Regions from separate parts of the Homo sapiens genome. Here region 2 is linked to region 1. A link means that fine-mapping ties the variant in region 1 to the expression of a gene that starts in the linked region. Tissue or cell type: whole blood. Region 1 holds a variant in brackets; the other region holds the start of a gene. All regions are shown on one strand. Distances are between the middles of the regions.

Region 1 (8,108 bases):
CTGGTGGTAAATATAGGGAGTAGCTTAGAGAGAGCCTAATGTTATCAGCACTATTGGTAGATAATTAATACCTGCAAATAGTTTGTACTCTTGACAGTATTTCAAGGCAAAGCTATAGCAGGGTAGTTGCTGAGAGATCCGGGGAAACGTGTTTTTCTACTAGTGGAAAGAATAGTCTCCCACTGGTTGTGAGGTTGCAGCATTTTAGAGCTACAGAAAGAGCTGAGACCAGGAGGAAGAACTAGGCAACTGCTAGGCTCTCATATTCTCTAGGAAGCAAAAGAAGTTCTTACTCTGCTAAGAACCATGGCAAAATGAATTCTGGCTTTAGGGGCTTTGGAATGCCCAGAAATGGTTGGAGTGAGGAAAAGTAGGAGAATGCAAAGAATGAATTAAGTGATAAATCTGTAAGTTGCAGGTCCTCTGCAGCGTGCAAAACTGGAACCCCAGGTAACAACCAAGAAAACCTCCATGAAGCTGGAATACTATGCAGTCATAAAAAAGGATGAGTTCATGTCCTTTGCAGGGACATGGATGAAGCTGGAAACCATCATTCTCAGCAAACTGACACAGGAACAGAAAACCAGACATGGCATGTTCTCACTCATAAGTGGGAGTTGAACAATGAGAACACATGGACACAGGGAGGGGAACATCACACACCGGGGCCTGTTAGGGGATGGGGGGTAGGGGAGGGATAGCATTAGGAGAAATACCTAATGTAGATGACGGGTTGATGGGTACAGCAAACCACCGTGGCACGTGTATACCTATGTAACAAACCTGCACACTCTGCACATGTCCCAGAATTTGAAGTATAATTAAAAAAAAAAAAAAAAAAAAAAAAAGGAAACCTCCATGAAGCAATTCAGAGTAAGTCTGCCACTTGAGGTTTACTTGTTCATAATTTACTCTCTGGAGTACTATGTTAAATTTTTTCCTCTATAAAGTGTTTTTAACTAACCATCTAAATATTGGTTAAGGCATCATGTTATTGTAATGAAGGCCATTGTTTTCGTAAGATCAGTCTCATCTGTCCCATATTCAGGTCATGGATTTAATAATTGATACACTCAAACTATCCAGTGAGCAATAACGCCTGCTTCCCTGCACTCTCCTCCCCCAGCACTTGATCACCTCCAATCCTTCTTCTCGTTGTGGCCAGAGTGGTTTTCCTGACATAGGGACCTCAGCATGTCACTTCACTGTGCAGTCTTTTTTGCCTTGTGGACTTCGGGATAAAGCGCAACCTCCTTGGCATGCATAGAAGATGCTGTCCATGACCTCATCCCTCTCTGCCTCTCCAGTCTTATCTCCCACCACCCTATATTCCAGCCATGTGGAATTCCAGTTCCCCACACATGCCATGCTCTTTCAAGCTTTGGTTTGCTTGGTCTTCTCCCCACAGTGTGCTGCCCCAGCTTGAAGACTCAACTGAGGCATCAACTCTGGGGAATCTTTCCTGCCTACTACTTCTGACCAGCTGCACCTCACCTGAGCTCTCAAATTGTCTTGTATACATGGGGTCCCCTTCTCCCCTCCCCCCAAGACTGTCTTATCTCTATTTTCCAGGTTCCTAATACAAAGTAGGTGCTCCATTTGTATTTGATGAACAAAGGAATGAGTAAGCAATTCAGTGTCTGAATGAAGGAGCACATTTGGTATATTAGGGAAGCTGCAAGTGACTACAGCTGGCCAACTAGGGGCTGGAGCTAGGCATAGCTCTGTCTTTCAGTGATAACAGAGGTCAAAGGATCCTTAAGATTTAGTTCTTGGTTTTTGTAGAAATTGCCACTATCTGTTCTTCTGAATATAAGATGTTGCTTTGTTGCCTTTATTTTTAGAACTAACAGAACTAGAACATAGCAGTTTTTCAGTGAAACACAGCAGCCTAGAGCAATATACATATATATCACATGCAGGTTTAGGTAGATATCCATTCAGGGTCTTAGTAATGCCACAGAGGAGGCTCTGTCTCCATTCAGCTGCTTGCTGTCAATTGAAGTATGATTATTGCACTTCCCCACTGAATCAACATACAGGCTGCATAGAGCCTTTTCTTAGAAAGGTCATAAACTCTCTCAGGATTCTGATCACATTTCATCAGCTACATTGGAAAGCCTGAGTCTATCTGATCTGTGTTTGTATTCATTCAACAAATACATCCCATATGACTACCATGTGGCTATTTGGAAACAACTAAGTTTATTAACTGGTCACTAGTCATTCAGTGACTATGTCTCAATAACTGTCTTCGTCATCCTCACCGGCCTTCATTCCAGTGTCCATCCCAACCTTAGTACACAAAACTTTCCTGGTAAGTCGTTTCAGTGAATTATGAGTGATCTATCACACAAGAGTCTCCCAGCATGGGGATCTTCCCACCAAATTCTTCTAAGTGCACTCCTGTACATCGTGAAGCCTTGCTGCCTTGAGAGAGCCACACTCTGGAGAGAGCTTAGGGACTAGCTCCCAGGGTCAGGCGTAGGTGCTGTCCTCAGAGCACTGCCGGCTGCTGGTGTCATATCTGTGTCAGGAAGGGAACGTGTTTTCTAATAAAAGGTTTTTGTCTTGTCTTTCAGCTTACATTTTATTATGGTACTATAGATCCTTGGTGTCCAAAAGAGTACTATGAAGACATTAAGAAGGATTTTCCAGAAGGAGACATTCGACTCTGTGAGAAAAACATACCTCATGCTTTCATCACCCATTTTAACCAGGAAATGGCAGACATGATTGCTGACTCCCTAAAGGATGACTTGTCCAAAATGTAAATTGGCCTGAGGAACAAGCCCCCACTGCCAGTACATGGAGGCAGTCAGTGTACTAGACTTAGTAGGTAAATGTTTAATTTTGAAGACTGATATTAGAAATGAAGAAAGTGAGAACCTTTGTCTTACAAACCAACTCTCCGCTCGCCATGTTATAGGCTGAAGTAAACACAGTTGATGAATCATTCCATAGGTTTAACCATACATTTTCCAAGACTCAGGGAACACAGTGATCTACACAGAGTCTTGTGTTTGCACAAGATGCCCAGTGGCACCATATGGTTTATTTTGGTAGGCAGGATCTTTGCAGATGAAAAAAAAATCTACATGTACTTGATTTTAATTGAGTTACATTGTAGAATAGGCTCCTCTGGAGGAAATTATGAAATACCTACTAGAAAATGTAAAATAAATCAGTGAATGTTAAGAGTATAGTTAGATATGTGAAGTGTATGAGATTATGACAAGGATACACTCATGTTCCAGGAGCAGGAAGTGAACCTGGGTCTCCTGTAAGACAGAAGATGAAGATGAGCCCAGGCTAACTTAGCACAGATCTTGGCTGAGATCATCAATGTGACGTCTAATGTACCTGCACTAGACAGAGAATAAAGTTCACCAGACATTACTCTGGTCAGCTAACCAGATAAAGAATTGTTGAAGGACCCCAACTGTGCCTCCTGCCACAGGACAACCAGCAAGTTCTATGCTGAGCCTTAGCCTCCCAGGTTATAAGCTCCCTGCAGGCTCCTCCTCTCCAGAGCCAGGATGGAGAGGCACTGGGCTGTCCCAAAGCAGGCTTGGATGTGCCAACGTACAGTTGCTCCTTCTGTAATTCTTGCACTAAAACTCCATTAAAGACCATCAATGAGCCAAATAGTGTGCTAGCCATTGAGGATGGAGTTCTTAGCTACTTAATGATTCTTTTCTTCTGGAAATCTTCTAGTGAATAATTTTTAAAAGCTTCTTTTAAACTGCTCAGTAAAACATTGCCATACATTAACTCTCCATTTCTGCATTAACTTCATTTGCTGGAAAGAAATTATTTTGTTAATGAACCAAACCCAGCCATTAAGTTATGTGAATTCACCTTCTCTAGACACATTGAGGTATGGCAGAGAAGACACATATTCCCTGGCCTAGAGTGGGCTGACAATATTGCTGCCTCCCCTAAATTGACTCAATCTTGAGAACCACATACTGCAGTGACAGTTGATCATGGATCAGAAATATTCCTTTTTCTCCTAGAGGAAATCCCTCATGGCATTATCATTCCCTAAGGACAATGAGATGTCCCTCCGCTCAAATCCTAAAGCCCCCTGATGAAAGATTTGGCTCTGATTTGCTGCCAACTTATTGGTAAGTGCTGAATGAGTTACTGTGCTTTGGCATAGCTTCTACATCACAGCAAGTGACTTCTCAGAGGGGAAAAGCCAAGCTCCAGACAAGGAGTGCTGTTAGCCCAAGGGGAAGAGCTAATAGATACATAGGCCGTAAGCACAGGGCTGTACACAGATCCTTTATTGGCATCTGCATGAGAGGCCTAGAAATCGGATGTTAGAAGCTAGGAATCATGGCTCTGAGCGCCTTGCATACAGGAGATACTCACTGATACTAAATCAAGGCATGTAAACAATACTGGGTAAATCATACCTACCAGAATAAAGAGTAACATTCAGAGCTTTTCTTTTATCTGTTATTTTAAATGTTACTCCATATTTCAAAAGTCTGCACGTATGAAATTGTGTCTTATTTCTGGTTTTTAGAGCCTAAGAAAGATACTCATTCTTAATTCCTATTTATCATCTGAAAACCAAATGAATTTTTGAAATAAATGTTTTACCAGCATTTCTGACCTGGTCTGGCCTGATCTCTGTGTTGGGCAAGAGAGGGTACAATTTGAGCAGTTCTCCTGAGTTAGACTCGGCTCAAAGTCTCTCTTTTAAAGTGAAAAGCCACCTTTCTCATTGCTTTTTTCATAGGTGGAAGAATCAGATTTCAAGAGACTGAAGTTCATTCTGTTTCATTAGGGATTAGACTAAAATGGACAAACAGTGGAAGAAATCCATTTTCCAGAAG[C/G]AGCTCTGCCTGTATGTCCCAGTCAACCACATGGATGGTCTTTGTGAAAGTTTTAACTTCCTGCAGAGTTACCGAGTGCTCAGCGATTGAGCTTTGACCACACCCGTGTTTGTTCCTAGTCTGTTCCCAGCCATAAGCATCTCCACAAGCCCTCTGTGGCTTGTGTGGCCTGATGTCCATGGCCACCAAGGGCCTCTCACCATACGCTTCTCCACTCAACCTTTGGAGAGACACGGACCACCAAAGGCTTGATTTTTCTTCATCCTACATTATATTCAAAACAAACAGGCTGGGTGCCGTAGCTCACACCTGTGATCCCAGCACCTTGGGAGGATGAGCTGGGAAGATCGTTTGAGGCTAGGAGTTTGAGACCAGCCCGTGCAAAAAACGAGACCTCGTGTCTAAAATAATTTTTAAAAAAGAGCAAAAAAAAAAAGCAATTTCAGATTAAAGGAGACTGAAGAGACATGACAATTGGACACAACATCTGATTCTGAATTGGATGTTTTTGTTATAAAAGACATTGTTGAGACAATTTGCACAACTTGAATGAGGTCTGAAGATTAGCTGGGAGTAAGATGCCACTGTTAATTTTCTGATTTCAGTGGTTGTACTGGGAAGAAGTAAGAGAGTGTCCTTGTTTGTACTGGAGACACTGAGGTATCTGGGGGTGAGGGGCATCATGTCTGTTTACTGTCAGATGGTTGAGGGGAAAATAATGTTCTTTGTACTTGCAGATTTTTTGGAAGTTTGAGATGTTTTAGAATTTGTAAAAATAATTATTTTTAAAACCCCACCATGCTATCTCCTGCATCCGTGTCTCATTGCTTCTTTTCCAAAAAGGCTATTTCCTCTTGTACGCAGTAAATGAAGACCTGGGTTCAAATCCCAGATCTGTCATTTGTTAGGTTTGTGACATAAGACTTCACTTCACCTCCCTGAGTCCCCCAGCTCCTCATTTTTTTTTTAATGGAGATAAAATGAGGTCATGCATATAGCATTTAGTATGTTGCCTGGCATATGGTGGATTCTCTATAAAATGGTACCTAAAGGAGGATAGCAAACTTGTTTTTCCTTTTTTCCTTTCATTTCTCTTCTCTTTAGTGTAGCAGAGGACCCTGTGGTATCTCAGTCCCTGCACTGTTTCACCAGGCTTGTAACTTGATTCTAGCAGTCAGCATTTTGGCTCTTACGCAGGGATAACACTTGCTCACCTGGCTCAGCTTTCTGGCCTCAGCCCATTCAGGCCTCCCTGCACACAGCCCAGGATGTTCTAACAGTCGATTTAGAAAAGATGCGGGAAGCAAAGCATTTCTTAGATGGCTTGAGACATCTTCATCCCTGGCCTTCTCTTGCAGAAGAGAAGAGGCAAGGATATATTTGGGCTGCTCCTTCCCTTAGGGGTGGGCCTTAAGGAGAGGTTGGAGGCTGGGACTGAGTGTGCTCTGTGAACAAATACATCTGTGGGACCTTGAATGAAGCTCTTCTGCAGGAGTGCTGAGGACAGCAAAGCTCATATGAGTGTTCTTCTAATCACTTTTTAAGAGGATTGAGATTCCTGCCTGTGCCCCATACAGACATGGGTAAGTGATCACATTGGCCCAGGTGAGGAGTGTCTGTGGGACATGGGTCTGGCCTCTCCCACCAGGCTGAAGGCATCTCTAGAGCAAGACCGGCGTCACTGAGTGTGATGCTGGGTGAGCATCCTCAGAGCACGAACGAGGGTCAAAGAAAGCTCTGGGTGGTTCTATGGTTCTATAAAGGGTTCTATAAAGACAAAGCTCTTGGAAGAGAGAAGAGGATGAGGTTGCCCCTAGTCCTAGAAGGGCAGGTAGAACTTGGATAGGTGGTTTGGAATAGATGAGAGCTAATCCAGATAAGGAGTATGCTGCTCACCCCAGCACCTTCACAGTGTCTCACTTAGGCCTCCCAATCCTGTGATGTTCTGACTATGCCCATTATACAGATTACCACTGAGGTGCCTTGCTAAGGACCTCACAGTTAATAGATGACAGAGCTGGGGTTCTCCTGTAGTTGCACATGTCCTCCAAAGTTCGTGTGTTAGAGACTTAATCCCCAATGCAACTATTGGGAGGTGGGTCCTAACAGGAAGTGTCTGAGTCATGAGGGCCCTTCCTTCCTGAATGGATTAATGCCAGTGATAAAAAGCCACAATATTAGGCTGCAAGTTTGATCTCTTGTTCTCTCATGCTCTCTTGCCCTTCCACCTTTTGCCAGGGAGGATGTAGCACAAAGGTCCTCACCAGATGCCAGCCCCTCAATCTTGGACTTTCCAGCCTCCAGAACTGTAAGAAATAAATCTCTTCTTTATAAATTACCCAGTCTCTGATATTCCATTATAGCAACAGAAAATGAACTAAGCCAGATTCCAATTCAGGCCTCTACTCCAGAGCCACCACTTCATCCCCTTTTTCCACTGCATCATGCTGCCTCCTGGAGGCCACAGTGGGCAAGCCTAGCAAAAGTGGAGAGCCGGGAAAGAGAGTCACGCAAAGGGCAAATGAGGACCCGATTGACAGAAGAAGTGACGAGTAGATCGTTGGTAACAAATGAGTAGTTTTAAAAGAATGAAAGCTATAACAGAGACCAGTTTTCAGACGGCAAAAATATGCATCAGGCAGTGGATTGAGAGAAAGCAAGCCCACATGCTGGGAGTCAGTGCTGTGGCTGCAGCCACATGGCCGGCACCTCTGCAACTCTTCCATAGCCACCTGGTCTTATGCCACGCACGGGAGCTTCCTGTGGACTCCTCTGTACAGGAATCACTGCTCCAGCTTTGATTACGCCCATCCTCTACCCCACCCCATGAGACGTGGCCTAAAATACCAACTGCTCCTGCCTCCCAGAGCGGTCCTTCCCACCCTTCCATGCCCTGCCAGTCTTCATGACCCCTGGCCTGGCCTGTGTCTACTGAATGACTTATCATTGCTGCGGGATTGTGTCTCTGCAGTCTGCTCCTCCCTGCCTCCACCAACACCCCTTCTCTCAGGAGAGTCCTAGAAGATGACCTTCTGTCTTAGTCATCTCTGTGCTGTCAGGGCATATCAAATATGGCCTGCTACACAGGGTAGTCTATAAATTTTGTTATCTAAATTAATAAAAAGTTTCTACCATACCTAATAGGCAAGCTGTGAAAAAGTGCAATTCTCACATTGGGTCGGACTACCAGGAAATCACATCTCTGGGCTTCTTCATCTTAAAACTGACACATCAGTGGGAGTGCAGACATGGACACTT
Region 2 (8,108 bases), 140 kb before region 1:
ATAAAATAAAATGTATAAATTACCCAGTTTTAGGTATTCTGTTATAAGCAACAGTAAATGGGCTAAGACAGAAAATTGGTACTGGGTTTGAATATTTGTCCCCTCCAAAACTCATTGTTGTAGTCTGTTTGTGTTGCTTTATAGGAATACCTGAGGTTATGTAATTTATAAAGAAAAGAGGTTTGTTTGGCTCATACCTCTGTAGGCTGTACCAGAAGCACGGTGCTGGCATCTGCCTCTGGTGAAGACCTCAGGCTGCTTCTATTTATGGTGGAAAATGAAGGAGAACTGGTATGTAGAAACTGCACAGCAATAGAAAGCAAGAGAGAGAAGGGAGGGGGTGCCAGCTCTTTTAGCAACCAGCTCTCATTGGAAGCAACAGAGCAAGAACTCATTCACTCTTGCGAGCATGGCACCAAGCCATTATGAGGGATCCATACCCACAACCCACAACCCAGACACTACCCACCAGGCCCCATCTCCAATACTGGGGACCACATTTCAATCTGAGACTTGGTGGGGGCCAAAACAAACCATATCCAAACCATAGCATTCATGTTGAAATTTATTTCATTTTAAATAATGTGTTTTGTTTTTTATTTTTGTGGGTACATAGTAAGTGTATATATTTATGAGCTCATGTTAAAATTTAATCCCCAAAGGGGAGTATTAAAAGATGGGACCTTTATGGGGTGATTGAATCAGGAGGGCTCGGCCCTCATGGATAGATTAATTCCTTCATAGATTAATGGATCAATAGGTTAATGAATTAGATTAAGGGGTATCATGTGAGGGGAACTGGTGGCTTTCCAAGAAAAGAAAGAGAAACCTGAGCTAGCACACTCAGCCTCCTGGACAAGTGAGGCCCTGTGCTGCCTTAAGACTCTTCAGAGAGTCTTTCACCAGGTATAGCCCCTCGACCTGGGACTTCTCAGCCTCCATAACTGTAAGAAATAATTTTTTCTTTACAAATTAGCCAGTTTCTGGTATTCTACTATAAGCAACAGAAAATGGACTAGGACAAGACCTGAGCTGAGCCAATCAGAAATTCTTCCCCGGGTATTAGGAATTAAAATCGAAAGAGGGAGAAAAAAGAATCTCTGTGTGGCTGTCCCTCTGCATCAATCTGGACAGGCTGTGTGGCACTGTGGTAAGAAACAACAGCAACAACCTCCAAAGCCTTAAGCAACAAAGGTTTATTTCTTATCACAATATGTGTTGCTATGGTTTGGATATAGTTTGTCCCCAAAAAGACTCATGCTGAAATTTGGTCCCCAGTGTGGTGATGTTCAGAAGTGGGGCCTATGGGGAGGTGTTGGGGTCATGGGGTGGATCCCTCATGAAGAGATTGTTGCTGTTCTCGCCAAAGTCAGTTCTTGTTCTGAGACACAGCAGAGACCCCTCTTAAGGGCTTGCAGGGCACTCTCCACCAAAAGATGAAAATAAAAAAAAATCTTGACTTCCTTAAAGAAAATTCCAGACATCTAGCTAGTCCTAAAAACAAAAACAAAAACAAAACAAACTTAAAAGCAAGAAGATAATAAGAGCTTAAAACAATAGCCAAAAAATTAATGTCACGGGATATTGTATTTCCTATAAAAACTAAAGGTAACATCTTAACATATGTCCCAAGTTGTTTTTCAGAAACCCAGATCCCCACTAAATGGATCCACTGGCACACAGGCCTCAAATAAGGGAGAATTGAAGGCTAAACTCTGACTACTATTCTTTGTTCTAAATTTCTTCTTGAGGTGCTTAAAGGAGGCCATGCCCATGAGCCCAAGCTAATATCCTTTTCTGCTGATATCAAATTTTTAGAGAGTTTCACCTTCTTAACAAATCACAAATCAGAAAATCCTTAAATTCCACCTATGACCTGTGGGCCCCCCTCTTTGAGATGCCCCGCCAATGCACGGCAGGCAAGCCCCAAATTGGGGATTTGCCCAGTAGAGTTCTTAGCTTCGCCAAGAAAGAATTCAAGGGTGAGCCGGTGGTGTTAAATAGCAACTTTTACTGAAGTAGTAGTGTCCAGAAGCAGCAGAGATACTGCTCCTTGCAGAGCAGGGCTACCCCATAGGCAGTGTGTCCAGAGTAGCATCTGAAAGGCAGTTCTTCTGTCATATTTATAATCATTTTTAATTACAGGCAAATTAAGGGGTGAATTATGCAGAAATTTCTAGGAAAAGGGTGGTAACCTCTGGGTTGTCAGGTTGTTGCCATGGAAAGGGGCATTAATATGGAAAGCTGCTTCCTCCCTGCCCCTGTTTTAGCTAGTCCTCAATTTGGTCTGGTGTCCAATTCCTGCATCCTACCTCACTGCATTTTTAGGTTAAGCCAATATATAACCTCCATATATTGATTTATGACTTTGCCTATAACCTCTGACACCCCTGCATTTAAAAACCCTTACCTATAAACAATTAGGGAGTTCAAGACTTAAGCACTAACTGACCAGTTCTCCTTGCTTGGGACCCTACAATAAATGCCTCACTTTCTTTCACTATAATCCTGATGTCAGTGTTTGGTCTTGCTGCACAGGCAATTGGACTCCAGTTTGGTTTGATAACAGCTCTTGAGAGATTGGAAAAGAGAGAGTCCCTGAGAGAGTGGGTTGTTTTCCACCTCCTGTTTGGTCTGTTTTCACATGTATCAGCTTCCCCTTTGACCTTCTACCATGTTGTGACACTGCACAAAAAACTCTAACCAGAACTGAGCAGATGCTCACACTATGCCCCTTGAGCTTTCCAATGTGCAGAACCATGAGCTAAGTAAACCTCTTTTTTAAATCCAAGCATACTTTGAAGATATTGGGGGTTCAGTTCCATACTACCACAATAAAGCAAACATCACAATAAGGCAGTTCACAGAATTTTTTTGGTTTCCCAGTGCATATAAAATTTATATTTACACTGTACTGTAGATTATTGTGTACAACAGTATTATGTCTAAAAAAAGTACATACTAAGAAAAGAAAAATAGCCCAGAGCTGTCTGAGCTATGTGAGGTATGCAAAATTTATTAGACCCGGACAGAAGTGAATACTGGCTTCCGCCACGCCTTCCCATGCCTTAGGGCAATTGTTAAAGGCATTTTGTTCTTTATTAGCTGCCTCACCCATTATCTTTATGTTCCTGGAATTTGTGATACAAGGAAGAAAGCATAGCCAGTCAATAGCTTAAGTTTTTTAAATATAAATTCTTGGTAAACAAGTTAAGCTCTGCCTCCTCTCCTTTCCTTAAAAACCGGCTCACGCCTGTAATCCCAGCACTTTGGGAGGCCGAGGCGGGTGGATCATGAGGTCAGGAGATCGAGACCATCCTGGCTAACAAGGTGAAACCCCGTCTCTACTAAAAATACAAAAAATTAGCCGGGCGCGGTGGCGGGCGCCTGTAGTCCCAGCTACTCGGGAGGCTGAGGCAGGAGAATGGCGTGAACCCGGGAAGCGGAGCTTTCAGTGAGCCGAGATTGCGCCACTGCGGTCCGCAGTCCGGCCTGGGCGACAGAGCAAGACTCCGTCTCAAAAAAAAAAAAAAAAAAAAAAAAAAACCTACTCCGACTGCTGCTAATTGGAGTGTATATTCAAGGCAACTTGAATCTAAGCTCCTGAGTGGCCATTCTCAAGCACTGAGCCCAAATAAACTCTATACTTAATATTATTCTCTGAATTTTCTTAAAGTTGGCAACACCTTAATTAAAAAAATACTTTATTGATCATGCTTATGAACATGATCAAATGAGAATCAACTTTCCTGTGTATGTGGGGAAGATATGCAACTAGTAACGCAGAAAGAGGGAAATGGGAAGAGGGAGAAAAGAGGGGCAGACATGGAACAAATGAGAGAGAAGGAAAGGGAAGCCAGAAGCCAGAAGCACATCAAGGATGACAGAAAATAAAAGGCGGATAAAATTCAAATGAAAAAGAAAGGAAAACCCCGACACCCTCCAAGAGGTCTCTCTGATCTGGACCACCGGCTCCAAGCCAGTAAGAAATCTCCCAGCCAGCTGTGCGCCGCGCGCCAGGCTGACATCGGCTTCCCGGATCAGCTCCGGCGCGGTACTGTGACGTCACCTGAGGGGGGCACTTCCGGTCTCGTGCCGCCTTCCCAGGACCCTCAGGGAGAGCGGGCAGCCTTCCAGGTGGACAGGTGAGGTACAGCTTGCCGAGCTCAGGGTGACTGCCCAAAGGAAGGACGGGTGGGCAGGCACGCGGGATCTGGCGCCCCTTCTTCTCTATGGTTCCTCGCAGAGCCCCTGTTGCCCTGGGCCAGATGGCCCGTAGCAGCAAAAATAATACTGTTCCGACAGCTCGCGAGTTCGGAGCCACTTGGCCTGGGAGTCCCTTGAGTTGCAGGCCGGGCAGTCGCTCACCCGAGCGCGGTAATGCAGCATTTGAACCCCTAAGTGTAGCCCACCTGTAGGGAGTCTTATGGTGCCCCCGCGGAGGAGTAGAGGCCAAAAAGTTGGGCAGCTGGCCGGGAAGAACTCGCTAGGAGGGGTCAAACTCTGGGCCGGGAGTGTTCTTTGCCCCCGGCGTTTAGTGCTCACGCCGCCTTTTATTCACGCTGAAGACCTTAACCGTAAACCCTCATCCTTGGGTCTTAGTTTGGTTTTGTTCCCCACGCAAGACAGAATGCAGATTGGAACACTTTATTCCTTGGTTAATTCGTATCTTCCCTCGCAAGTAGTTACCGGACACCTGCTTTGTGTCCTGTGTACCAAACACAAGAGTTGATAGTCCTGGCCGGGCGCCGTGGCTCACGCCTGTAATCCCAGCACTTTGGGACCCCGAGGCGGGCGGATCAGGAGGTCAGGAGATCGAGACCATCCTGGCTAACACGGTGAAACCCCATCTTTACTAAAAATACAAAAATAAATACATAAATAAATAAATTAGCCGGGCGTGGTGGCGGGCGCCTGTAGTCCCAGCTACTCGGGAGACTGAAGCAGGAGAATGGCGTGAACCCGGGAGGTGGAGCTTGCAGTGAGCCGAGATGGCGCCACTGCACTCTAGCCTGGGCGACAAAGTGAGACTCAGTCTCAAAAAAAAAAAAAGAGTTGATAGTCCTTGAGTTGAAAGAACAAATCTGTATGGAGAAAGAGATACAACCAAAAGAAACCCAGAAGATTTAGAAGCATCTCCAGAATGTTTATTCTCAAAAGCTGTTTTTTAATTAAACTTCTTTCTGAAACTATACGTAGGAGTGTCTCTTGTGTGTTTCCCCATTTTTCCACCTGAAGGTTAAAGACTTAGAAACCTGCTAAGGCCCCTCTTTCCAGCATGTAGCATTCTAGGGGGATAATCAGGGCAACACAGTGGGTGCCCATCTAAAATTTTATATTTTAATATTTTGCTTTTTGATAACTTAATGCCTTCAGACTGGAGGATTTTTTCTTTCTTTTTTTTAATTTTTTTAAAATTATACTTTAAGTTCTAGGGTACATATGCACAACGTGCAGGTTTGTTACATATGTATACATGTGCCATGTTGGTGTGCTGCACCCATTAACTTGTCATTTACATTAGGTATATCTCCTAATGCTATCCCTCCCCACTCACCCCACCCCACAACAGGCCCCGGTGTGTGATCTCCCCCTTCCTGTGTCCAAGTGTTCTCATTGTTCAATTCCCACCTATGAGTGAGAACATGTGGTGTTTGGTTTTTTGTCCTTGCGATAGTTTGCTGAGAATGATGGTTTCCAGCTTCATCCATGTCCCTACAAAGGACATGAACTCATTCTTTTTTATGGCTGCATAGTATCCCATGGTGTATATGTGCCACATTTTCTTAATCCAGTCTATCATTGTTGGACGTTTGGGTTGGTTCCAAGTCTTTGCTATTGTAAGTAGTGCTGCAATAAACATACATGTGCATGTGTCTTTATAGCAGCATGATTTATATTCCTTTGGGTATATACCCAGTAATGGGATGGCTGGGTCAAATGGTATTTCTAGTTCTAGATCCCTGAGGAATCGCCACACTGACTTCCACAATGGTTGAGCTAGTTTACAGTCCCACCAACAGTGTAAAAGTGTTCCTGTTTCTCCACATCTTCTCCAGCACCTGTTGTTTCCTGACTTTTTAATGATCACCATTCTAACTGCTGTGAGAAGATGTCTCATTGTAGTTTTGATTTGCATTTCTCTGATGGCCAGTGATGATGAGCATTTTTTCATGTGTTTTTTGTCTGCATAAATGTCTTCTTTTGAGAAGTGTCTGTTCATATCCTTCACCCACTTTTTGATGGGGTTGTTTGTTTTTTTCTTGTAAATTTGTTTGAGTTCTTTGTAGATTCTGGATATTAGCCCTTTGTCAGATGAGTAGGTTGCAAAAATTTTCTCCCATTCTGTAGGTTGCCTGTTCACTCTGATGGTAGTTTCTTTTGCTGTGCAGAAGCTCTTTAGTTAAATTAGATCCCATTTGTCAATTTTGGCTTTTGTTGCCATTGCTTTTGGTGTTTTAGACATGAAGTCCTTGCCCATGCCTATGTCCTGAATGGTATTGCCTAGGTTTTCTTCTAGGGTTTTTATGGTTTTAGGTCTAACATTTAAGTCTTTAATCCATCTTGAATTAATTTTTGTATAAGGTGTAAGGAAGGGATCCAGTTTCAGCTTTCTACATATGGCTAGCCAGTTTTCCCAGCACCATTTGTTAAGTAGGGAATCCTTTCCCCATTTCTTGTTTTTGTCAGGTTTGTCAAAGATCAGATAGTTGTAGATGTGTGGTATTATTTCTGAGGGCTCTGTTCTGTTCCATTGATCTATATCTCTGTTTTGGTACCAGTACCATGCTGTTTTGGTTACTGTAGCCTTGTAGTATAGTTTGAAGTCAGGTAGCGTGATGCCTCCAGCTTTGTTCTTTTTGCTTAGGACTGACTTGGCAATGCAGGCTCTTTTTTGGTTCCATATGAACTTTAAAGTAGTTTTTTCCAATTCCATGAAGAAAGTCATTGGTAGCTTGATGGGGATGGCATTGAATCTATAAATTACCTTGGGCAGTATGGCCATTTTCACAATATTGATTCTTCCTATCCATGAGCATGGAATGTTCTTCCATTTGTTTGTGTCCTCTTTTATTTCATTGAGCAGTGGTTTGTAGTTCTCCTTGAAGAGGTCCTTCACATCCCTTGTAAGTTGGATTCCTAGGTATTTTGTTCTCTTTGAAGCAATTGTGAATGGGAGTTCACTCATGATTTGGCTCTCTGTTTGTCTGTTATTGGTGTATAAGAATGCTTGTGATTTTTGCACATTGATTTTGTATCTTGAGACTTTGCTGAAGTTGCTTATCAGCTTAAGGAGATTTTGGGCTGAGACGATGGGGTTTTCTGAATATACAATCATGTCATCTGCAAACAGGGACAATTTGACTTCCTCTTTTCCTAATTGAATACCCTTTATTTCTTTCTGCTGCCTAATTGCCCTGGCCAGAACTTCCAACACTATGTTGAATAGGAGTGGTGAGAGAGGGCATCCCTGTCTTGTGCCAGTTTTCAAAGGGAATGCTTCCAGTTTTTGCCCATTCAGTATGATATTGGCTGTGGGTTTGTCATAAATAGCTCTTATTATTTTGGGATACGTCCCATCAATATCTATTGAGAGTTTTTAGCATGAAGAGCTGTTGAATCTTGTCAAAGGCCTTTTCTGCATCTATTGAGATAATCATGTGGTTTTTGTCTTTGGTTCTGTTTATATGCTGGATTACGTTTATTGATTTGCGAGGACTTTTTTCTTTGTTAAAATGTTGCTCTGCTTTCAGCATTTTCTCCCTTGTAGTATTACCATAATGTATTTAAGATTGAGCACTTAATTCTGAAGTCACTTTAAGTATACCTCAACCAAAGGGAAATTAATATATTATTTCTAATGAGTGTATTTAATATAGGTAAGTAGTTTGTACACTTGTGAAATTCTTGGCATTAATTGATGTCCAGAAGCTGAAAGCTACTCTCTGGTACATTAAAAAAAAATTGTGTGTGTAATTACAAGAAAGTTTGATGTCACAGTTGCAAAGGAGTTGTGCAAAACAAATTGCCTTTTTCCAGTAAAGATAATTCAGCAAGTTCATCTTGAGTGTAGTGTGTGGTTTCGTTTTTAATATGTCCTCAGCAGT

The links. PIP is the estimated chance that this variant, and not a neighbour inherited with it, causes the effect.
Region 2: LDAH starts here. The variant in region 1 is fine-mapped to the expression of LDAH in whole blood (INTERVAL, PIP above 0.99).

What each region holds. Positions count from the first base shown.
Region 1 is chr2:20,681,569-20,689,676 of GRCh38, reverse strand. LDAH (lipid droplet associated hydrolase) reads left to right here. Exons shown (of 7, transcript NM_021925.4): 7 at 2,583-5,646. The coding sequence ends at 2,774. Among named protein-coding and RNA genes, the nearest start is that of GDF7, 18 kb to the right of the region's middle. The variant C/G (reference allele first, on the strand shown) is at 4,851.
Region 2 is chr2:20,819,074-20,827,181 of GRCh38, reverse strand. LDAH (lipid droplet associated hydrolase) reads left to right here and starts at 4,081. Exons shown (of 7, transcript NM_021925.4): 1 at 4,081-4,145. RefSeq lists enhancers at 3,898-4,287, 4,508-4,577, 4,380-5,205.